Regions from separate parts of the Homo sapiens genome. Here all the other regions are linked to region 1. Evidence: fine-mapped expression QTL. A gene starts in region 1. Each other region holds a variant in brackets. All regions are shown on one strand. Distances are from middle to middle. Region 1 holds the start of ARMH4 (armadillo like helical domain containing 4). Region 2 overlaps ARMH4 (armadillo like helical domain containing 4). Region 3 overlaps ARMH4 (armadillo like helical domain containing 4).

Evidence for each region. PIP is the estimated chance that this variant, and not a neighbour inherited with it, causes the effect.
Region 2: its variant is fine-mapped to the expression of ARMH4 in putamen (GTEx, PIP 0.93).
Region 3: its variant is fine-mapped to the expression of ARMH4 in nasal epithelium (TOPMed, PIP 0.94).

The regions. Positions count from the first base shown.
Region 1 is chr14:58,147,516-58,155,702 of GRCh38, forward strand. ARMH4 (armadillo like helical domain containing 4) reads right to left here and starts at 4,698. Exons shown (of 8, transcript NM_001001872.4): 1 at 4,560-4,698. RefSeq lists silencers at 4,233-4,422, 4,523-4,742, 4,636-4,930, 4,823-4,892.
Region 2 is chr14:58,095,851-58,104,037 of GRCh38, forward strand. ARMH4 (armadillo like helical domain containing 4) reads right to left here. Exons shown (of 8, transcript NM_001001872.4): 5 at 874-1,131. It also overlaps the pseudogene LOC100420347. Among named protein-coding and RNA genes, the nearest start is that of ARMH4, 52 kb to the right of the region's middle. The variant A/T (reference allele first, on the strand shown) is at 3,660.
Region 3 is chr14:57,995,824-58,004,010 of GRCh38, forward strand. ARMH4 (armadillo like helical domain containing 4) reads right to left here. Exons shown (of 8, transcript NM_001001872.4): 8 at 4,938-8,187. Among named protein-coding and RNA genes, the nearest start is that of SLC35F4, 130 kb to the left of the region's middle. The variant C/G (reference allele first, on the strand shown) is at 4,256.

The DNA of each region.
Region 1 (8,187 bases):
TGTTGGCCAGGATGGTCTCAATCTCTTGACCTCATGATCCGCCCACCTCAGCCTCCCAAATTGCTTGGATTATAGGTGTGAGCCACCACACCCAGCTGGTTTATTCTTAAGAATAAAAATTGCAATAATCAATCAAAGACAGCTACCACTTAGGAGCTGCTATGTGCCAAGCGTTCTAAGTGCCCAGTGGAAATTATCTTATTTAATCCTTACAACAACCTAATGAGGTATACTGTCGTTATTCCACTTTTTAAATGAGGAAAACAACAGGCTGGTAGAGGATAAGTAACTTGCCTAAGGGATAGTGTCTGTTTTTGATCTTTTGGATTCTGTCAGAATTCAACGTCCCTACCTTTGCCAGACAACTCTCTGCTTTCCCAAAACACAGCATATAATGTCCCCAAATATGCAATTGCCAAAATCCATCTCTAATAAGGCAACCCCATACCACTGGTGCCCAGTATAAACACCATCATCAGTCACATACATAGCACTTTTATGTGCCATACTCATCTCAGGCTCCTAAGTTGGTTTTTTGTTTGTTTTATTTTCGAGATGGAGTCTCGCTCTGTCGCCCAGGCTACAGTGCAGTGGCATGATCTCGGCTCACAACCTCCACCTCCCAGGTTCAAGCAATTCTCCTGCCTCAGCCTCCCGAGTAGCTAGGATAACAGGCATGTGCCACCACACCCGGCTAATTTTTGTATTCTTAGTAGAAATGGGGTTTCACCATGTTGGCCAGGCTGGTCTCGAACTCTTGGCTTCGTGATCCACCCACCTCGGCCTCCCAAAGTGTTGGGATTACAGGCGTGAGCCACCGTGCTCAGCTCTCAGGCTCCCAAGTTTTGAGAATGACACTGTACGACCCATGGTTCCCTACCCAGGTATCCAAACCCTGGCCTCCCAGGTCACATCCCATTCTGGCCCATTCTTTCCCCACCCTTCTCCTAGCTCCTGTAGCATGAATTGTCATTTAAGTCTCAGCACCTCAAATGAGATTATGTTCTTTGCATACAAACACTAGTCTTTACCATTCCTTTGTTTGCCACATAATTAGTAATAAGGGTAGGCACAAAGAGGAGAGATTCCATAAATATTTGTTGGCATGATGTGAATATAAATAACCATTTAAGAATATGAAAAAGAACGTTTCAAGTCCTTATTTTGTACTGTAAGATTTTTTTAATGACATTTCATGGTCTAACCATGTCTACTTGTATGTTTTATTCAATACCTAGCCAATTTTGGCTACTTATTTAACTGTCACTCTAACAATAACAATAACTTATGTGTTCTCATTTCTGCTATATTTTAAGGTTTCAGAGTTTATTACACACACACACACACACACACACACACACACACGCAACAGACCAACAGTTACAGGTAACAAGTCTCACAGCGTCAAGTCAACATGCTTGCCAAATACCATCTCACCTTTTGAAATACAATTAGTGATTCTCTGATGAGGGGGATAGTGTCTTAATAATCTTTGTGTCTTAATAATCTTTCCATTTTGTGTCTTAACAATCTTTCCACTTTGTCCTTTTCATGACCATTCCTCAATGATTAATTTATCATTGTCTTACTTTTTCTTTTTTTAAATCCTTAAGGCTGTTACTGCCAACACTATTTTATTGCCAATACTATTGTATTTACTTAAAGCTGAGCTTATAAAGACTCTCACTCTATTAACCCAGCTGTGGCAAATGGCATTAAGGTACCACGTTTCTGATTCACTGTGCTACTGACAATCATCACTGGTCTGTTATATTGGCTTTAGGATCTAGGCTGCAGCTATACTTCACCATAAATTAAATAGCTGAATGACAAACAATCCTTTCAGCAGCATGTTCCATCACAATGGAAGGAGGGAGAAGGAGTAAGTAACCACAAAGAAAAGCATGGTCCCCCAGGAGGAAAGCAGCCCCAGAGCTGGCAGGGAAGAGGGTAAGTAGGCTGGGGTCAAAATAGCTAAATTACTGGAAACTAAATACCAGTAAAAAGTACTTTACCATCCCTGAAGACCACACCTAAGTTCTACATACTGAGCCCAGGAGCTTCAGTCTCTACAAATTAGTGATGTAGACAAATGAAGATATCCGTGCTTATCACCCCTAGCATATCATCTCATCCCTGGTAAAAGGAGATGGACTTGAAGATTTAAAAACAGGCTTCTTCGAGTTCCAGTTCTACCTTAGGCAAATCACTGAAACTCAAGTTTTCTTGTTGCAAAGTAGAAATAATAATGCTGGTTATATTTTTTCAAAGGGTGGAGAACACACACAAAAGTGATAATAGACATAAAAGCAGTTTGAAACAAAAGTAAATTATCATGCAATAGAAGACATACTAGCATGCTACTGACATGCATTCCTGTCAAATACAGAAATGTGAGCAATTTGGAGCATCTGTAACATCAGCCACAAATGGAGTAGCATTTTTTTCCCCAAGGTACTTTCATGGAGCTTCTCCTTTCAGCTTTATCATGTAGACAATGTGACCTGAGAGGGTTCTGCTGTCTGCAGAATCCTATCCTGATGAATCTTGATCAACAAACTCTTCTCCATCCATCAGACAGTTTATTTCAGTGACCCAATTGGACATATCATTTCTGGTTTTTGTGGTACACAAATGTAGCCATTTGCTTGGCTAGATCTCTAAGTAGCTGACATTTAAAGGGAAGCTGAAACTAGCTTCAGATACTTCTCTTATAATCACCAAGTAAACACAATATGGAAAAATAAGATTGACCTCACATCTTGCTTAGGGAATGAGTTTTCATTTTACAAAAATTAAAAGCAGTTTCCCTCTGCATAGACAGCTTCCCTATGTGAGAAGTTTTTTAAGTTCAATTAACAAAAATACAATTCCATACACCACTTTTCAGACAAACATCTACAGAATAAAGGGCAAAGGACACCTTTAGGTGGGGAGTGGACATTTTCCACAGCAGATAAACCCGTTTTCCTCATTTTGATTCTACACTTATATTTAGCATCGAACCATTTCCGTAATACCAAATTATAATATTGTAAAGGTCTGGCAGGAAACTCCGGAATATGTAGTAAGAAGCCTCCCATGAAAACAAAGACAAATTCACATCTCTCTAATTGGCTCCGTTGCTGTAGCTACCTTAGACTTGGTGAGCCTTGGGAGTTTCTATGAATAAACTCAACTAATATCAAATCTGTCTGCTGCACAAGTGCTCGGTTCATTATTGTGACAAATACAAAAAAAAAACCACTTTATTCATAAGAGCAAGTCAGAGTACCTTTAAACCTCTGTGTGTAAAAGAAGCAATGTTCTGATACTGTGAAACCTTAGCCGGTTGTGTGTTTCAATAGATGCTACTGTGGGGTTCTACTGGCATACGTGCCGAAGTCAGTCAATGACTGTAGATGCTTGGCTAAAAGGAGACTCCCTGGAGCCCAACAGCATCACTTGTGATCAAGGAAATACACCAAAATAAAGAGAAGGCATGTGAATTCTGACCACTCAAGAATTTTTGCCCTTTGGAGAAGAGATCCTTCAGAACCCTAGGGATGGTTTTGTGAACCACTCCCCACTCCCCCTCAAGTTTCAAACTAAAACTTCCAAAGAAAGAAGGCAGACACTTTAAAGCAGCCATCTCTCCTCTCTTCCACATCAGTTCTGCACTGAAATTGGATGCCAAGTGCTAGGCGGATCCTCGGGATCATCTCATCTTTGAGAACCCAAACTCTTAAGGGTCCTGTTTTGTTCACTCCTGCTTGCCTCCTCGCCAGCCAAGGTTCTACATGTTTGGAATCTACACAAGTCAGATTCTGTCAGTGACCACGAGGCACATGAGACATTTGGGCACCTCCGGCAGCACCTCCCAACTATTCCGGAGTCTCAAGCAGAGCCTCGCCTCCCCCAGGTCTAACCCGCAGGCCCTCTTTCTAATTAAGTGACCTTTCCAAGGAGCGTCCTCCAGCCGCGTCCTGGGGGACGAGTCAGGGGCTGAGCAAGGAGGCTCGACATCTCTGCGCTAAACACTCAACTGTTTGTTTTCTGCAAAGTGGCAGGACATATTTCGGTGGTGACCGCAGCAACGATTCGCTCCTCGATTGTTAGGCTCTGAGTGGCATTGGGGACACTGCGATCGACGGTTTGAAAGGAGTAAACCGTTGTTTTCGGGAACTTCTCTCTCACTGCTGTGGGATTGCGAGCGGAGGGAGAAAGAGAAAGAAAAGCCCACACAAAAGCAGCCAGCCCTGCAAGCTCCGCCAGCACAAAGGCCGGCTCGCTGGTGCGGAGCTGGGAGGCTGGGCTGGAGCTAGGAGTGCGGTGAGTCCTCCGAGGCCTGCGCGCCGCGCCCAGCGCGCCCAGAGCTGCCCCCGCGCACCCCACACCTGGGCACCGCGCTCCGGAGGAGGATCGGGGCGCACGCCTGGCGCACCCAGGGCTGCAACGCTCCCGGGACTGTTACGCTCGCGGAGCGACCCCACGCCACTGAGGCTCCGGTTCCGTCCCTGCCCCGGCGCCACGTCTGCAGCCGCGGCCGCCCAAGTGGCCGGAGCCGGGCCCGTCCTCACCTGTGCGCCTTCAGCTGAGCAGCGCGCGGAGGACAGAGGCAGCGGCGGCGCGGGCGCTCGGCATCCCAGCGGCGGGCCCTGCGGCGGCGGCGGCGGTAGCGGCGGCGACTCCCTCCGCTGTCTGGGACGCTAGGGGGAGGGCGCTTCGCTTTGTTGCTTATTCATAAGGCCGCGGCTACGGCCGGGGATTGGGCGGTGAGTAGGTGTGCCCGCCCTGGCTCTGCTGGCACTGACAGCCGACGCCGTCGCCCACGCCCCCCTGCGCCCACTTCCCCGCCTCCGCTCTCCCGCGGGGGCGGCTTCTGCTGGAGTCCCGGCACCTGGGACCCCTCGGAGATCCCGTGCTCCGCTTCCCCTCTTTAAGCGGGAGCTTCTGCGGCAGCTCGCCTCCCTATCTACGCGGAAGAGACCAGGGCACCGTTTACACGAGAAAAACCTCAATTTTGCTGTCTTTGGTTCAGGCAAGGAGCGCAAATCTGAGACTGCAGTGTTCCTTGTGGAAACTATGGACGGCTTGGCGGTGCCCTTAAGTAGGACCCTTAAAGTAACTCTACACAGAATGTCCCTTCTCAGTCCGTCGGAGAAGTTGCAAACTAGTGCTAGTCACAAGTAAGGTTTATTGAGCCCTTACTCCTGCCAGGCACAAGAGTAGATGCTTTGCCCATTACTTTACCTGCTTAATCTGCACGATAGAAGGGTAGATATTGTAGTTCTCATTTACCAGGGTAGGAGGTTAAGGCTAAGGGCTGTGTAACTTCTCCAAGGTCATCCGGCTCGCGTGGCCACCGGGAATTTGTGTCCTCCATTCTTGAGCCTCTCAAGGACTGTTTTCTTTTTCTGTTACTTCTAATGGTGTGGAAAGAGGTGTCGGAATCTAAAGGCCCGTTTTGGAACAACCTCCACAACGCAGCATTTTACATTTGCAGAGCACTCTTCACATTTGTCCCTTATTGTGCTTATTAGCTCCCTTCTTCATAATACCTTAGTCCCCTTTTGTAGTTAATTATAAACACCTTGAAGTCAGAGCAAAAGCTGGCTCACCTTTGACCCCCACACCTAACACAATGCACAGGTATGTACTGGTTTCTGTTTGTTTGTTTGTTTGTTTTTGAGACAGGATCTCACTCTTTCCCCCAGGCTGGAGTGCAGTGGCGCCATCATGGCTCACTGCAGCCTCGACCTCCTCCTGGGACCTCAAGCCATCACCCACCTCAGCCTCCTAAGTAGCTGGGACCACAGGCATGCGGCACCACGACTGGCTAATTTTTTATTATTATTATTATTATTATTATTATTATTATTATTATTATTATTGGTAAAGATGGGGTCTTCCTATCTTGCCCTGGCTAGTTTCAAACTCCTGGACTCAAGCGATCCTCCTGCCTCGGTCTACCGAAGTGTTTGAATTATAGACATGTGCCACGGTGCCCAGCAGGTATGCACTGTTACCCATTCCCCCTCCCTTTAGAAATTATTATCTATGTATAATCATGCATTGATTAATTAGGGGAATACATTCTAAGAAATGTATCCTTAGGCAATTTTGTTGTTATGCGAGCATAATAGTATACTTACACAAACCTAGATGGCATAGCCTACTACGTACCAAGGCTATATGGTATAGCCTATTGCTCCTAGGCTACAAGCCTGTACAGCATGTTACTGTACTCAGTACTGTAGGCAATTGTAACACAATGGTATTTCTATATCTAAACATTGAAACAATACAGTAAAAATACAGTATAAAAGATAAAAAATGGTGCATCTGTATAGAGCACTTACCATAAATGGAGCTTATAGGACTGGAAGTTGCTCTGGGTGAGTCAACGAATGATGAGTGAGAATATGAAGACCTAGGACATAACTGTACACTACTGTAATGTACGTAACCTTACACTACTGACATAACTGTATACTATTGTACATAACTACACTACTGTAGTTATGTAGGCTATAACTGTATGCTACACTACTACTGTAGTGTAAACAATGTACACTTAGGCTGTACTGTAGACATAAACATTTTTTCTTCAATAATAAATTAACCATAGCTTACCTGAATTTTTTACTTTATAAATTTTTTTTAACTTTTGACTCTTTTTTTCTTTGAGACAGGGTCTCACTCTGTCACCCAGGCTGGAGTCCAGTGGTACAATCACAGTTCACTGCAGCCTGGACCTCCTAACCTCAAGCAATCCTCCTGCCTCAGCCTCCCCAGTAGTTGGGACTACGGGCACATGCCACCACGGCTGGGTAACTTTTGACTCTTTTGTAATAACACAGCTTAAAACACAAACATATTGTACAGCTGTTCAAAAATATTTCATTTCTTTATTTCCTTATTCTATAAGCCTTTTTCTATTTAAAAAACAAAATTTTAAAAGGCCAGGTGGGTCATGTCTGTAATATCAGCACTTTGGTAGGCTGAGGCGGGTGGATCACCTGAGGTCAGGAGTTCGAGACCAACCTGGCCAACATTGCAAAACCCTGTCTCTACTAAAAATACAAAAATTAGCCAGACATGGTGGTGCGTGCCTGTAATCCCAGCTATTAGGGGGGCTGAGGCAGCAGGATCGCTTGAACCTGGGAGGCGGAGGTTGCAGTGAGCCAAGATCGTACCACTGCACTCCAGCCTGGGCAACAGAGCAAGACTCTGTCTCAAAAAAAAATTAAACTTTTTGGTTAAAAAACAAAACAGAAACACACACATTAGCCTGGGCCCATAAAGAGTCAGGATCATTATCACCATCTTTCACCTCCACATCTTGTCCTGCTTCAGGGGCTATAACACACATAGAACAGTCATCTCCTGTGATAACAAGGCCTTCTTCTGCAATACCTCCTGAAGGACCTGCCTGATGCTGTTTTACAGTTAACATTTTTATATACAAGTAGAAGTAGTATAATCTAATGATAAAAAGTACAGTACAGTAAACACATAAGCCAGAGTAGCATAGACATTTATTATTATCAAGTATTTACTGTACATTATTGTATGTGCTGTAATTTTATATGACCGGCAGTATGGTAGGTTTGTTTACACCAGCATCACCACACAAAGGAGAGTAATGCATTATGTTGCATCGTGCTAGGATATTCCGATGGCTACCATGTCACTAAGTGATAGAAACTTTTCAGCTTCATCATGATCTTATGGGACCATCATTTTATACGCAGTTTGTGGTTGACTGAAACATTATTATGGGTACATAAGGTACTTCCAGAATGTGATTGGATTGAATTGAATCTATGAAGTTTGTTTGTTTGTTTTTAGACAGGGTCATGCTCTGTCACTCAAGCTGGAATTCAGTGGCCCAATCACTGCTCATTGCAGCCTCGACCTCCCCAGGCTCAAGCAATCCTCCCACCTCAGCCTCCTGAGTAGCTGGGAGCACAGGCGTATACCACCACACCAAGCTTTTTTTTTTTTTTAATTTTTTGTAGAGACGAGGTTTTGCCATGTTGTCCAGGCTGGTATTGAACTCCTGCACTCAAGTTATCTGCCTGCCTTGACCTCCCAAAATGCTGGGATCATAGGTGTCAGCAACCACACCTGGCCTGAGATCTGCTTTTTGTATGTATTCAGTGCAATACATTGCACTGTGGCCAGGTCTTCTACCTGGATTCA
Region 2 (8,187 bases), 52 kb before region 1:
TGCCACACTGAAGGAATCAATGGGCCTAGCTGTTAAAGACTAGGAGCATTTTAGAGAAGAGTTTCCTTGGAGAAGAGATTAATTCACCTCAGGTCAAGGGAATAGGGCCTCAAGGAGTCACTGAGAGCTTAATAGCGTCTCCCCTGACAAGAGGAGAGGGACAGACTGGGGAGCTTCCCTGTCGATGTGGAAGGAAGTGCTGAGCTGAGGAGCGGCCTGCATCCTCCAAGTCTCTCACCACAAGCACGGGCCATGAATAAGAGAGAGTGAGCATGGAGTGGTCTGGCCACCCTAGCTGCTGAAATGAAATCGTGTTTGACAAGGTAATGCAGCCACAAGTCTGAACAGAAAAATCATGGGACTGCCCAACTGCTCACCCACAAGCAGGGGAAGAACTTCCCCTAGGTAATAGATTCCCAAAGGACAGAGCGGAACAAAAAATGCATTTGTTCTTCGACTCTGTCCCATGGTGCTGCTTGTCCAACATCCTGGTTACACGTATCTCCTCCCTGTGCGGATGTCCTCCTAAAGCCTACAACTGTCTCCCAACTGGGAAGGAAAAACTGAATTTCTTCCAAACATCAGGCAACTGTACTCATAATAGGCAGCTGGAGACTGTTTGGAGCCTGGCTACTTAAGGGCATAAATATAAACTCATCGAAGAAATAAGTGATCATTTTTAATTTTTAATTATCAGTTATTTCTTCGGTGAGTTTATACTTATATTCTTAACCACCCATAAATGTAGAAACCACCCATAAACAAAGAAAATCCATTTTTCTTTACAATAGATGGCAATGAAAGAAGGCTGTCATCTGAGAAATATAAAAGGAGGGGAGAAGGGAGGAAAAGGGAAATACACATGACTCTTACCCAGGCCTTGATTCTGCTGTTCCCACTCGAGGGCATCTGGCACCTGGTAGGTAGCTCCCTCCAACAGGTCCATGTTTCCCTCCTCTAAGCCTGGTTCCTGGGATGTGATACCAGGGAGGGTAAAACCTGGCAGCTCAGTGTCACCATCCAAGCCCTCATCCAGCGAGTCTGCATCTTTATCTTCCTCATCTTCTTCCTCATCTTCCTCTTCTTCATCTTCATCTTCTTCATCCTCTTCATCCTCATCTTCTTGTCCCTCTAGGCAAAAAGAAATCAAAGGGAAGCATAAACATATAATGAGTTTATGCTGAAACAAATGAATCCTTGGAAATGATCCAAACACTACAAAATAATTGTTTGGCCTTTTGAAACACATCTTTATAGCCAAAGTCAGACAATGTGAACTTTGCAGGATTATACACCCACCATATGTCCTAGAGTTTAAACTTTCAAAACCATAGTTATGTCAGATAAGTATCAGGTATTATGTTTACTGGGAGTCAAAGTTCAAGTAATATGATTTGTTATTAAAGTTATTTATATTTACAAGGGTAGTAAACATCCCCTTGCTGTTTTCTGGAGATCATTAAAAGTTTATCAGTTAGCACACTGTGAAATACTAACAGAACTTAAAAGAAGCTGTTCCCATCCCTTTATAGCTCATAATGTTAAAGGAGACAATTCATTATTTTGGCACAGCTTTTTCTATTCATCCACATCAGTGAGTAGAACTCACAAAAATGGTAAGTGAGGAGCACATAAATTCACTCTTGGATCTTGTTCTCTCTAAGGAAGAGTAATCCAAGAAACTGGAAATAATTGCATCAACATTCTCAATCCAACTCTAAAGGAATTGGGAAGTGGGATATTCACCAGGAGTGGTCAGAAAGGCAGCACATTAAAAATTACCATTATCTTCATTGTAAGAGTTAACATTCACAATTCGTCGTTTTCTTGATTTTTTTTTTTTTATTTTTTATTTATTTATTTATTTATTTTTGAGACGGAGTCTTGCTCTGTCACCCAGGCTGGAGTGCAGTGGCGTGATCATGGTTCACCACAGTCTCAGACTCCTGGACTCAAGCCATCCTCCTCCCTCGGCCTCCCACAATGCTAGTATTATAGGCGTGAGCCATGGCACTTCACCACAAGCTGTCATTTTCAATGCTCCAAGTGGAGTGGGTTTAAGGAACATATGATTCCCAATTTCATTTTGTTTCACCAATGTTAATTTCCTAGTAATACTTCAAGGCCCCATCCTCACCATGGATGCACCTCTGAAGCCCCTGGTAAGTGCCCACAAAGTTCACAGAAGGCCTTCCCTTTGCTCTCTCCCCTTGACTCTCGGCACAGCAGTTACTGCAACAGGTAATTCTCCTCCTATGGTGGAGAAAAGAAGGGAAGAAGAAGAACTGGAGCCACCCAAGAATTGTGAGACTCTCCTTTTCTGCTTCTACACAACTTTCTCCACCCATACTACCTTTCCTCTATCATTCAGAGGCTTTTTAACTTTTAAAAAAAATCACCTTTAATCTTTTTTTATTCTTATATGTCCTTTAACTTTGTAGGATTAATGTCTGTCACTATTCTAAAAATTCAACAAATATGTATCAACCCCCTAACGGGTGCCGTTGCAGACACTAGGGATAAAAGCAATAACGTCTCTGCCTTCGTGGAGCCCATGTGCCACCCAGGGAGACTCACAGCAAACAAACAGATACACCAATAGGCAGGTGACTCTACACTCTCATTAAAACTGGCAAGAAGATAGAAAACGCCAGGCACTGCTATTTTAGAAAGGGTGATTAAAGAAAGCTTTTCTGACAAGGTAAAGTTTGAACAGAGGCCACACCAAAATAATGCATTCTTTTGTTTAATTTAAGTCAACATCTACAGGAAGAGCATTCCCAGTGGAGGAAATGGCAAGGACCTAATCCTTGAGGCAGGTGTGGCCTCGCTGTGTTCAAACAATGGCAAAGAAGCCTGGGCTGGGAGGCACAGGGCAAATACAGGAAATGAGGTAGGAAGAAGTAGGCAGGGGCCAGATCTGACTTTTTTTTTTTTTAAGTCTTTTATTTATTTCAATAGGTTTTTGGGGAACAGGTAGTACTGACTTATATTTTTAAAGAATGACTCTAGCAGCAGGGTGGAGAACAGGCTATATCAAAGCAAGAGATGAAAAAAGAAGGCTGACAAGGAGTCCACTTAAAAACCAGGAATAGATTATGGTGCTTTGGACTAGGGTACAATCTGGAAAGAGGAGAGAGGTAGTCATATCGGGGATGTAATTTCAAGGTAGAACCCTGCTGATAAGTACAATGTGAGATGCAGGAGGAAGATCCCACATGACTGAAAACGGGATCTAAAAGATAAGGAGTCAAAACAAGAATTTGCATTTGAGATACAGTAACTGTGTGATGGCCTATGGCATCCAAGGGAATGTTGGAAGTCTAGGGAAGTTTCAAAGCTAGAGATAAATTTTGGGAATTGTCAATTTATTAATAATATTCAAAGCCTTGAGACTGGCTGAGATTATCAAGAAGGTGAATATAGACAGAAAGGGAAATGGTCCAGACCACATTCCCGGGCAAAGCCACCACTTAGAGGGTGACCAGCAGAGGAAGATCCACACAGGAAACAGGAGTAACCACCAGGGTGGGAGAAAATCCAAGAAGTGTGTGGTGTCAGGGAAGGCAAATGAAGAAAGCGTCTCCAAGGGCCCGAGTAAGAGACTGAGGGTGTCCCTCTGGCTTGGACATTGGGAGGGCACGGGGGACCTTGACAAA[A/T]GTTGTTTTGGAGGAATGATATAGACAAAGGCCAGGTTGGAGTGGTTCAAAAAAAGATTAGAAAAGAAGACACAACAAACAAACAAAAAATTCTTACCAGAAATTTGGCTAAAAGGAGAACAGAGAAAATAGGGGGCAGGTGGAGAGAGACACAGGGTCAAGGGTAGGGTCTTAAAATAGAATATAGAAAATAGAACCTGCTTGTAAGTTAATGGGTCAGATCTCATCGAAAGGGGCAATCAATGAGGCAGGAAAGACAGAAGCAGCTGCGGGAGAATATCCTGGGAGACATGGTATTATACAGTGGCTGCATGCATAGACTCTGAAGCCACACAAATTTATTACGGCTGTGTGATTTTTGCACACGTTGCTGAATTTTGCTGTGCCTCAACCTCCTCGTCTGTAAAACTGATATTATTCCTACCTCACAAGGCTGTTGTAAGGATTTCATTAGTTAATTTATAAGGTACTTAAAACTAAGCCTGGTGCATACTGGACAGGTTGGCTTCTTCATAATGACTAAAAGAAGACAAGGTCCAGTGCACAGGCTGGTTTGGATACATCCTCCCCTGAAACGGTAGGAAAAAGGGAAGGCAGAGAAACAGGCATGGTGCAGGAAGGTGGGCAGATTTGGTGGGTAGGGGATCTTTATATTTCTTTTATTCTCGGTCAAATAAAAAAACTGGAAAGGAAAAGAGAAATGTTGGTGGTTTGAGGTGAGAGGAAAAAGCGTGAAATAGTCGTCTTGGAGAGTAGGCGAGTACATTCTCAGAGAAATGGGGCAGGACTGCCAGGCAGCCCTCTAGGCCCACTTCAGATGTGACATCATATATCTAAAGTGAGACCTGTTAAGATGGTTGTGAGTTTTTCTCAAGCCACATTCAGCTGCTTGGGCGCAGGCATGGGTGGAGAGGTGAGTAGGCACAGAGATTTAACCAGCAGCAAGTTTTACCAGAAGAGCTCAATTGAGAGTGTGAGGGATAGAGAGAGGGTAAGAAAGGGTACTGATTGTGTGTGAAGGAGTAATTATAAAGATGGACCAGGGACTCTAATTAAAGAGAAGTTGAAAAAGAGGCTGGATAGAGGAAACATGATGGAAATTTAGGTTATTAGGAAAACTATCAGGAACCATTAAAACTACCTGAGGACTTCCATGTCTTTATTTTAGATTCTTGACAGGTGTTTTCTCCTCCTCTTGGGGGTGGATCCGAAAGGAGTGGCACCCCTTCCTTCTCCTGGAGTGCCCCTGCCTGTACCCCCAAGACCAAGATCACAGCTTCACAATGTAGCAGGGACTCCTGGCCATCCCTCAAAAGTAACTGTTTCTGTGCTAGAAAACTGAAAAACAGCAAGGGCCAGAAGTGAACCAGAGTGCAGAGTGAGGCAGAATCAGTGAGTCAGAGTGATGACGTGGGGCCTCCATGCTAAGGCAGAAAGAAAAACAAGCAGACAGACATCCAAAGGAAAAGCCAAAGATGTTGACCAGAAGGATTAAGCTGTGGGACACTAAGGCCCACATCACCTGCCGCCTGTGTAGTGGGCACCTCATTGATGCAACCAGGGTGACCAAGTGTCTGCACACATTCTGTAGGGGTTGCCTGGTAAAGTATTTGTAAGAGAACAACACCTGCCCTGCATGTAGGACTGTGATGCGTCACACTCACTCACTGCAGTACATCGGTCATGAGAGCACCATACATGAGACTGTTTACAAATTGGTATCAGGTCTCCAAGAAGCAGAAATGAAAACAGAGAATTCTGTCACAAATTGGGCATGGAAGTGCCTAGAGACATCAAAGGGGATACTTGTTCCACAAAACAACACTTAGATTTCCATCAGAATGGTGAAATGAAAGCAGAAGACAGTTCAAACAAAGACCAAAAAAGAGAAAAAGGAAAAGGACAATGATTTTCACAGAAGTGATGAGCAGGAAAGCAACAGCAGCAAGTTGTGGGGACTGAAAAGGAAATGAATCTGCTGCATAGCCCAAGCAATGGTCTGACATCTAAAGAAGTTCACTGCCAAAAATCTTAACCTTTTGTCCTTCAATGAGGTAATAGTCAATCCATAAAGAGAAACTCAAGCAAGTCAATTCTTAGGTAAAAATGACATTTCTAAAATTACTTGGGTTTTTTTTTTTCACAACTTTGTTTGGAGATTTTAACCAGAAAAAAATCTCAATTTGTTTTGCCTGCCCTGCCCGGTAGCATGATAGAAAACAGCAGTGAGGATTGTGAAAAGCCCAGACACCATGGACATGAAGAACCCACCATTGATAGAAGAGAAAACGGGGGAGAGGGTGTGGAGAGGAGGGCAGGTGATGAAACTGTTTTAAAATACGTTAAAGATATTCCTCACAAAGAAGAAGTCTGTTCTTTAATTTCACAAATGGATGGGTAGGTAGGTGGGTTGAAGGAGGGATGGGTGAATGAAGGAGAGAGAGAGAGAGAGAATGCTTTCAAGTTGTGATAAATGCTGAGAATAAAATGAAACTTGGTGGCCTGCTGGGCTGGGTAGTGGAAGAGTGGCATGAGCACATGAGCTGAAAATCACTGGGAGCTCACCTCAAGGTGATAACGTTTTGTGTGAAGATGTAAATTCTCAGCAGGAGACCAGCTCTGCACAGGTAAGAGAAGGCACTGGAAGGCCTCAGGCAGGGATACATGGTTTGGGGCAGGGTTTTAAAATATCCCTCAGGCTGTGTGGAAATGAGTTATGGGGTAGAGAAAGGAAAGCAAGAGAGGCTGATGGCAGGAGTCCCAGGAGAGAAGAACCATGGTGGTGCAGTGATAGTGGAAAAGCGGACAGACTTGACATGTGTTTTGGAGACAGCAGAGGGTGGAACGGTGGTCCCAAAGAGATAAACCCACATCTGGGCCCCTAGAACCTGCAAATGGGACCTCGTTTGGTAAAAGAATCTTTGCAGGTACAAGTAAGTTAAAGATCTTGAGATGAAATAGTCTTGGATTATCTTGGTGGACCTTAAGTACAACGACAAAAATCCTTATAAGAGTAAGGCGGCCGGGCGCGGTGGCTCACGCCTGTAATCCCAGCACTTTGGGAGGCCGAGGCGGGTGGATCATGAGGTCAGGAGATCGAGACCATCCTGGCTAACAAGGTGAAACCCCGTCTCTACTAAAAATACAAAAAATTAGCCGGGCGCGGTGGCGGGCGCCTGTAGTCCCAGCTACTCGGGAGGCTGAGGCAGGAGAATGGCGTGAACCCGGGAAGCGGAGCTTGCAGTGAGCCGAGATTGCGCCACTGCAGTCCGCAGTCCGGCCTGGGCGACAGAGCGAGACTCCGTCTCAAAAAAAAAAAAAAAAAAAAAAGAGTAAGGCAGAGGTCAGGCACGGTGGCTCACACCTGTAATCCCAGCACTTTGGGAGGCCAAGGCAGGCAGATCACCTGAGGTCAGGAGCTCAAGACCAGCCTGACCAATGTGGAGAAACCTACTCTGTACTAAAAATACAAAATTAGCTGGACGTGGTGATGCATGCCTGTAATCCCAGCTACACGGGAGGCTGACGCATGAGAATTGCTTGAACCCGGGAGGTGGAGGTTGCAGTGAGCCGAGATCGCACCATTGCACTCCAGCCTGGGCAACAAGACCAAAACTCCATCTCGAAAAAAAAAAAAATAGAATAAGGCAGAGAAAGACTTGAGATACAGACACAGAGACAAAGAGAAAGTCATGTGGAGAGGGAGGCAGACACTGGAATGATAAAGCCACAAGCTGAAGAATACTTGAGCCACTAGAAGCTGGAAGAGGCAGGAAGGATCCTCCCTGCTATGGTCTGCATGCATCCTCCAAAATTCATGTTTGGAAATTAATAGATTGGTGCCCTTATAAAAATGGCTATGGGAGTGGGCTCATGCTCTTCTGCTCTTCCACCACATGAGGACGCAGCAAGAAGACCCTTGCCAGATGCTGGTACCTTGGTCTTGGACCCCTCAGCCTCCAGAACGATGAGGAAATAAATTTCTATTATTCATAAAACCAACTCCCGCCCCCCCCAAAAAAAAACCCTACTTAAAAACTTTGTGGACCTTCCTCCTATAAACAGGAACTGTCCAAAAAGAGCACTATATTTTTTTTTGGATGTAGTCTTGCTGTGTCACCCAGGCTGGAGTGCAGTAATGTGCACATGGCTCACTACAGCCTCAACCTCCTGGGTTCAATTGACCCTCCCACCTCAGCCTCCCAAAGTACTGGATTACAGCTGTGAGCCACTGTGTCTGACCCCATTTATTTATTTTTGAAGCATTATAAAATTAATTTTAGTGTCCTTTGCTCCCCACAAACCTAAGAGGTTTGCACTGATAAAACAATTGTGACTATATAATCCTGATCTCCTAGGATCACTGTTCTCTGACCACTAGCATCCACCAAAGACAACTTGGTCCTCAACATCTTCAGCCAATCTCTTCTCTTTAAAGTATAGAATTATAAAAAAATGAAAGGAACCTCAAAAGTCACTTTACTCCATCCTATTATCTATCCCAAAGAGAGGGTTGCAGGTAAGCAAG
Region 3 (8,187 bases), 150 kb before region 1:
TTCTTTCAACTCTGTTCTTATTTTCATCCTATGGAGGCATCCTGAGGTAAATGGGCAGTTATGGACCATCAAATGCGAAATAAATGTTTTAATGAGGAAACACAGCTTGCTCGTTCAAATACAACTTAGGATTTTCACAAGCTGTTTTCCTTTCTTCTATTCCTCTTAAAACAACCATGGGAAAACATAGCTACAGAGAGGTAACAAAATACTATGTAAATTATAATCCTGATTTTGTATAAAAATAAAAGTATTTATTGCATATCATAAATGCATAGGAAAAAAAAGATTAGAAAAGTACAGACCAAAATGTTACCAATGTTTATTATTGTTAACATTTCGGGTGGGACTGGAATGATAATTATTCTTAAGTTTTTCTGAATTTTCTCAATTCTGCATATCATTGTCCCTGAGGCCCTCCAGAATCTGGCCTTGTGCTGATATGGCAACTATGGGAAACTTGCTTTATTTTTTATATGCTAAGGAAGGTAAGTGGCTTGACGATTGCCCGTAAGAACTGTCAAAAGGCCACAGAAACTGCTCAGCACCAGGACACAGAGCTGCATTGCTTGATTCTGCAGGCTGCACATCTAAGACCAGATGTTGTCCTCATACATACCAGCCCTGAGAAAAAAGTTTCTTGGATTTGTTTTCAAGAAAAACAAGATATTGAGCTTTGTTCCCTTGTCAAAGAATAAGAAACTCTCCTATTAGCCTTTACAAATCAAGACAGTCAAACAGATCTGAGATAGTAACTCATATCTAGGGATCAACCAAAGTAATCCCCTAAAGGTATTAGGAGAATTTTCCCAGATATTTAAGTTTCATTAAATGCAAAGTTAGTTCACTGGTACCTACTATTAAAAGTAACAGAAAATGGCGAGGTGCAGTGGCTCATGCCTGTAATTCCAACAGCTCAGGAGGCTGAGGCAGCATAGCTTGAGCCCAGGCGTTCGAGACCAGCCTGGGCAACATAGTGAGACCCTGTCTCTACAAAAAATAAAAAAAAAAAAAATAGCTGAGAGTGCTGACACACATCTGTAGTCCTAGCTACTCAGGAAGTTAAGGGGGAAGGATCACTTAAGCCCAAGAGTTTGAGGCTGCAGTAAGCCATGATTGCACCATTGCACTATAGCCTGAGTGACAGAGTAAGACCCTGTCTCAAAAAAAGTAAACAAAAGAAGTCACAGAAAATGACCACACATTTACACTTTGTAAAAATTAATGCTGCCTATACATTTCTGGCAGGCTTGTAGGTTATTTTTCTCAGGCCTAGATATGCTGGGATAATACAGGGTCAGCCCCTCCAGAAGGCAGAACACTAGACCATCGTATCTAGAAGCCTCAAAAGTCCCATGACCCTAGTCAGCTTTAAATGTTGTCTTTTCCCTCATCTCTCCATCTAAACAATCTGCAAGTCCCACTGTCTACCCCTGCTGAACACCGCCAGAACCCATTCTCCCCTTCCATGTTCATTTCTGCAACCTTGGTCCAGGCCATGATTATCTCTCACTTACATTGCTGCATCAACCTTGACCTTCACTGGTGTCTCTGACTCCAGACTTTAACCTTCCCAAACCAGTCTTCCTATTAACTCAGGCCTGATCATAACACTTCACAGCATAATATTTTTGCATGACTTCTAATTGCCCTCAAATAAAGTCCTCATTCCTTGACAGGACCTAGAGGATCCTTCCCATTCAGCCCCGTATTTCACATAGCATACTACCCTCAACCCCAACTCTCACTCCCCTAGAATACCTAGCACCCCAGCCAGGCTAACTACTTGATCTCTCACCCCTGGCCTTTGCACATGGGGTTTCTCTGGCTAGATCACATATCCCCTTCTCCCCTTTATCTGAATAACCCCACTCATCCTCCTGGCCTTAGGTTTGATGTTACCTGCTCTGGAGAAGCATCCCTGATCTTCTTGACCCAGTTAGATATTCCTTTTCTGGATCCCAGTGTCTCTGATATGAAATTGCCCATTTTCTGTCTTCCCTACTAATCCATAAGCCCTTTCCAGTCATGGACTGTGTCTTGGCTCCCCCAACACTTAACATATTACCTGACACATAAAAGGCATTCAATAAATACTGATTCAGTCAGAAGCAATATCAAGTGTTCTTGGTTTGCTGAAGATAGAGTCTCTAGCCATCCTCACCCTCCTCGGCAAAGAACCAATCAAATCTTTGGGATTCGATTGGTTCAACCACAAAACCATTTCCTATTCCTCCTCCTTTACCTCTTACATAAAGAGGGAAATAAAGGAAAATGACCATTGAAGGTTTTGTATCAAAATTCCTTTTTGGAAGACTACTTATAATTTCCTACTTTAGTCTGTCTGGTCATGAAGAAGTCTGAACTACACAAATGCTGTGGCCATGTCATGAGACATAAAATTAGAGAAATGATTCAAATGCTTTTGGTCCCTTCCTTTATTTGACTGCTAATTAGGAAGAGAATATTGAGATGGACATGACACTGGTTAATAAAAACCTCAGTTTCCTGAACTGATGCCAGGTTTATTCTTTTGAGACTAGAGCAGATGATCTACCCACCTTAAAGGTAATAAAATAATCCAAGTGGATGCCCACTTTGCCTGCAACTTTGCTTGCACTCCATTCCTATACCTATACACTTTGAGAAAAAAGATAACAGGATTTTCCCCCCACAGATAATTCTTCTGTTTCTACTCCTCAGTTCCTCCATCCTTAACCCACAAAAGGTTACACCTCTCAGCAACATCCATCTGAAGAATTTATACTCTATATTACAAATTGTTGATGGTTATCACTTACATAAGTGATCTTTTCCTGCTGCTTCTTGAAAAGAGAAAGTAGGATATTTGCTTTACTAGGTGGAATATGTAAGTTTTTTTACATCAATTTTTTTGTGCTTTTACACAAACTAGAACATGGGAGCAAATGACTTGTTTCTTTGTGCTTTTGCTGCTACTTACTGAGGGAATTCCTTAATTACTTCCTTCCTTCCTTCCTTCCTTCCTTCCTTCTCTTTATCCTATATGCACATGGTAGAAATTTGGGTTAATTAAAAGGGAGTTAGATATACCTATTACCCCAAATAGGACACTCCCAGTGCATTTGTATTACAGCGGCTTGCAAAATAAATGCTGGGGTTTTTTTCTGCATGCAGAAATTAAGCAACAGGATTATGTTTCCAGCTATGTTAACTGCCAGTCTATAATTATCAGGGCAACATCTCTCCACAGCTCATCTTCAGCTTATCAGTCTAGGAGTGCTAAATGTGCACATGTGGGACTTTTACTAAGTCAGTACCATTATTTTGCTTTCAAATTATTTCCTATTCCTAGAAGTTTATATTCAGTCATTTGAAGACTGTGCAATTAAAGAAGATATCTAACTGAGCTTAAGCTCATTTAAAGTAACCAAGCACCTTTTACCTCCTCATCCATCTTGGACTTCAGTTCCCCACCCCCAGCTATGTTCATTCTAACTACTATGAGATAATATTATTTGATGGAGAAGGTGGAGGCAAAATGGATTTGTGTAGCTTTATGGTCCCTTCTCCTGTTAATGATCTTCCTCATTTGTATTCTTCTCCTTGCTTTTCTCTATATTTTTTCAAGCATTGGTCCATTCAGAACTTTGGCATCCTCCAGCACTTTCTAATGTTTTGTGCCATTTTTATATTTGCCTTGCATTATGATTTTCCTCCATCTTCTTCTACCATATTTCTTTGCTTGAAACCACACCTTCACATACCATAAAGGGAAGAGATTTTTTTTCAGTTGTGTTCCTGCCTCTTCAAATTCCTCTGTGGTCATAAAAAAGCCTGTCTTGCCAAAATGTCACGTAGCTATAACCTTGCGCCAAATAGTACATCTTGTTTCCAAAAGCTGTTTTTTTGGCAGCTGGTAGGAACATGGATTATTCATATCTGCAGAAATCACAATCCCTGTGGAGGATTTGATTCTTCTCCCCCAGGTTGTGGCTGTGATTGGAAATAAGGTGTTTCATTTGGACTTCTACAGGAAGAAGACACCTGGAGGCAGACACAGAAGGAAGAGCGAGGTATTCAGTATGCTCCATGCACTCTATGTAATTTTCGGATACCTATATAAAATGTTTTGGCTTTTAACGCTTAGCATTTGGGGAAAAAAATCATAAAATGAAAAACCACTTTTAATTGACTCTTCAAAAATTACTTTAAATGTGTTCTAAAACTTGGCTTTAAAATTTCTTCATACAGTTTTGACCTATGTTAAGAGATA[C/G]AGGTACTTTAAGAAAGTGTTTCTGGAAAATTGTATTTGAGGCAGTTTATCAGCTGAAGGCACAGCTAAGGCATCGCTAAGGGAATCTGTTACCCTGGGATACTAATTAACTCCAAATATTGCATATAAATTAAGCTAGCAGCTACTGAAAGAAACAGCTTATGGGAAAGAAAAAACTAAAGAGGTTGGAAAGAAAAGCACTGTCTTTTCTAATTAGAGAAAAAGACATCAGGGGTATGGGAGAAACCCTTTTCTCTCCATCCCAGCCTTCTATTCTTTTTCTAGTAGCTTCCATCCTTTTCTCTTTCCTTGTTTTCCTTTCTCCTTTCTCCACAGCAGGTGTGATTTATTGGATAGCATGACCAGGGAAAGTGTCTCTTCCTACAGGGGACTGCTCTCCTTGTCTCTTTTGTGTGTGTGTGTGTGTGTGTGTGTGTGTGTTTGTGTGTGTGTGTGTTAAGAACATTTAATGTGAGATCTACCCTCTTAACAAAAATTTTTGTTTTGTTTTGTTTTTTGTTTTTGTTTTTGTTTTTGAGACAGAGTCTCACTTTGTCGCCAGGCTGGAGTGCAGTGGCGCAATCTTGGCTCATGGCAACCTCCACCTCCCGGGTTCAAGCGATTCTCCTGACTCAGCCTCCCGAGTAGGTGGGACTACAGGCGCGCTACCAGGCCCAATTAATTTTTTGTATTTTTAGTAGAGATGGGGTTTCACCATGTTAGCCAGGATGGTTTCTATCTCCTGACCTCATGATCTGCCCACCTTGGCCTCCCAAAGTGCTGGGATTACAGGCGTGAGCCACCACACCCGGCCCTCTTAACAAATTTTTAACTGCACAGTACGATATTGTTAACTATAGGCACTATGTTATACAGCAGAGCTCTAGAACTTATTCATCTTGCATAACTGAAACATAATTAATCAACATCTCCCCACCTTTAACTTTGCCCAGCCCGTGGCAAGCACCATTTTGCCTCTGCCCTTATGAGTTTGATTATTTTGGATACCTCAAAGAAGTGCAATCATGCATTTGTCCTTCTGTCACTAGTTTATTTCACTTAGCATAATGTTCTCCATGTATATCCATATTGTCACAATGACAGAATTTCCTTATTTCCTATGGCTGAATAATATTCTACTGTATGTATATACCACATTTTCTTTATCCATTCATCTATTGATAGATATTTGCATATCTATCAATGCAATTTCCATATCTTGGCTATTGTGAATAATACTTATAAGCTTATTGTGAATAATATGCTTATAAGCATAAGCAATGAACACAGGCGTACAGATACTTCTTCAAGATCCTGATTTCTATTCTTTTGGATATATGCCCAGAAGTGGGATAGTTGGATTATATAGTAGTTCTATCTTAATTTTTTGAGGAATCTTCATACTGTTTTCCACAGTGGCTATCCATTTTACATTCCCACCCACAGTATACAAGGATTCCAATTTCTCCACATCCTCAGAAACAATTGTTATATTTTGTTTTATTGAATAATAGCCATCCCAATAGGTGTGAGGTGGTATCTCATTGTGACTTTAAATGACCTTGTCTCTATCATAAGGAAGTGGTTCTCTAGATAGATCCCTCCTAGCTGTGTTCCCAAGCTTGCTGGGGCATGAATACCCCAAGCTCCTTCCCTGGAGATTCTAACTCATCAGGTCTGGGGCAAGGCCTTGAGATCTGTATGTTTCACAAGTGTCCCAGGTGATTTTTATGAGCCTGCAAATTCTGGAAACACTGCCTCTCCCTCCGAGAAGAAGACCTAGTTCCTGCCCCTGCGGTGGGATGCTGGCAGTTCTGGCTGGGTAAACTCAGTCCAGTGGGGATGGTGTTCACAACTGAAGCTGCAGGAATCAGCCCTCCTTTCCAGACAGCTTTATTTGTTTCACTGTTAAATGTTTTAAGCCTAGTTGTTTGAATAAAAAGTTGACTTTCTATTTTAATTGTGCAAATATAAGCATACTTGTCACTTATTTTGGGTAAACCTACAAGTGCCTGATTTACTACTTCTCAACTGGACCACTATATAACCACTGGCCAGCACTTCCATCTCGTAGCAGCATCTCTAATCCCAGGTTTTGTTTAAAATATGACAACCTTTTCTGATCCTCTTAATAATCTAAGCCAACCACTGAAAATCATTATTCCACAGCCACCAGCAGCAAGGAAAATGGCCAAAATAAACATGTCATTTGTACCATCCACCGACCTTCCACTCAATCCAGATGTTTAAATGGGTTTGTACAGAAATGTACTCTAAGTATAATCTTTTCCTTTAAGAAATCATGTGTCCCAAAAAGGACCACAGAGATACTGTGTTAAGCCAAAATTCACATACATGTCATCCTCACGGACCTCTGAGAAATGAAAATATGGGTCTGTTATTTGGGAATTTATTACACTACAGTTTGAAGATTCAACCTATTAGCCATGGTTTAGTTAAGACTATAGATTGAGTAGCCCAAGGCAATAATGGCCACTAGTATCACCCATGTGCTACTCAGTTAAGTGGCCTACGACGTATTCTCAACAAATAGTTTGTCAAGAATACAAAGACAGTAATGCCACACCATGCTCACTTACTCCCAACCTTAGAAACACTTACAGCAAAGGGCTGCTCTTAGAAAAGGAAAACATCCCTTATGCAATATCAGGATGTCTCTACTCGTGAAATTACAAATCACTTCTGAGTGTCATGATTCTGAATTCTATTTTTAAAATCTGACCTTGAGCTAATTTGCCAGTTGCTAACTTCTATTTGACTGTACAGAGCTTTTCACTTCTCTTGATCAGTTTCACATATTTGCTTACATCTCTTGGCAAAAAGAGTTAAAATTATTTGATGAAAATGTTCTTGTGAGCCAGACATTATTCAAAAACGGATTCTAGGAAGGTTTATTAGTTCCATAGAGGTGATACTCAAATGTATGACTGTAAAGGAAATAACTGATAACTGAGATGGGGAAGGAAAGAACTTGTGTGTGAGTAAGAGAGAAATTAGAAAGGCATCATTCATTTAACAAAGATGGAAATTCACATCAAACGTTCCTTGACCAGGCAGCTATTCCCTGCTATTCCCTTAGAACCTTTGTTTTAAAGAAGGACCCTGAAATGTCACTGCTTCCACCAAAGTCTATGAAAAGGTTACTGAACTGAAGATAAGGGTGCATGGCTGGGTCCAAGTGGGTTCTCACGCTGATTCTCTCTGGGTACAACTTTGGAAAATCATTTCACTTCTCTGCTTCAGTTCCATCTTCAGTCAAATGGGAGAATAAAAACATATGTCCTACCTCACATAGTAGCTCTGAGGAATAACTGTGCAACTTTTCTTGAACATAGTAGACAACTTCTAATAAACACCAACAAGTACTCCACAGTGACAGCACTATTAATAAATAACTTTTATTCTTCCATGGCAATGAGCCAAGCCTTTACCCCAAAACTCAACTACAAATCCTCAATCCCTAGATTCAAATAGCGCATTGGAATATCCTATTTTGTATAGGGCAGGGAATTACATTCCAAGGGAGATGAGAAATGATTGAACATATTTCAATATCCTCATAGCGGGGTGCCCTGAGAGAGGCTGGTTTCCCATGAGCTCTGTTGTTCACCAGGACTCTGGCCACTGGGCAGACAAACGATAGAATGTCTATTTTTCTAATAAAGCCATATAAGGACCAATGGTAGCCCACCTTTTCCATGGTGGAGTCCACAGATGTGGAAATACAACACTCTGAATTAGTCACATTAGCAGCCACATAAGCATAGAACCAAATGGCAGACAGAAATGCTCTGAGAGCTTACCTACCCTCATCTCATTCTTGAATTCTTCTTCATTTTTTCTCGGCAAAATCAACTAGCACACAAAAAGAATATCTCTTAATCATAAACATGTATGACATGTATGATTGA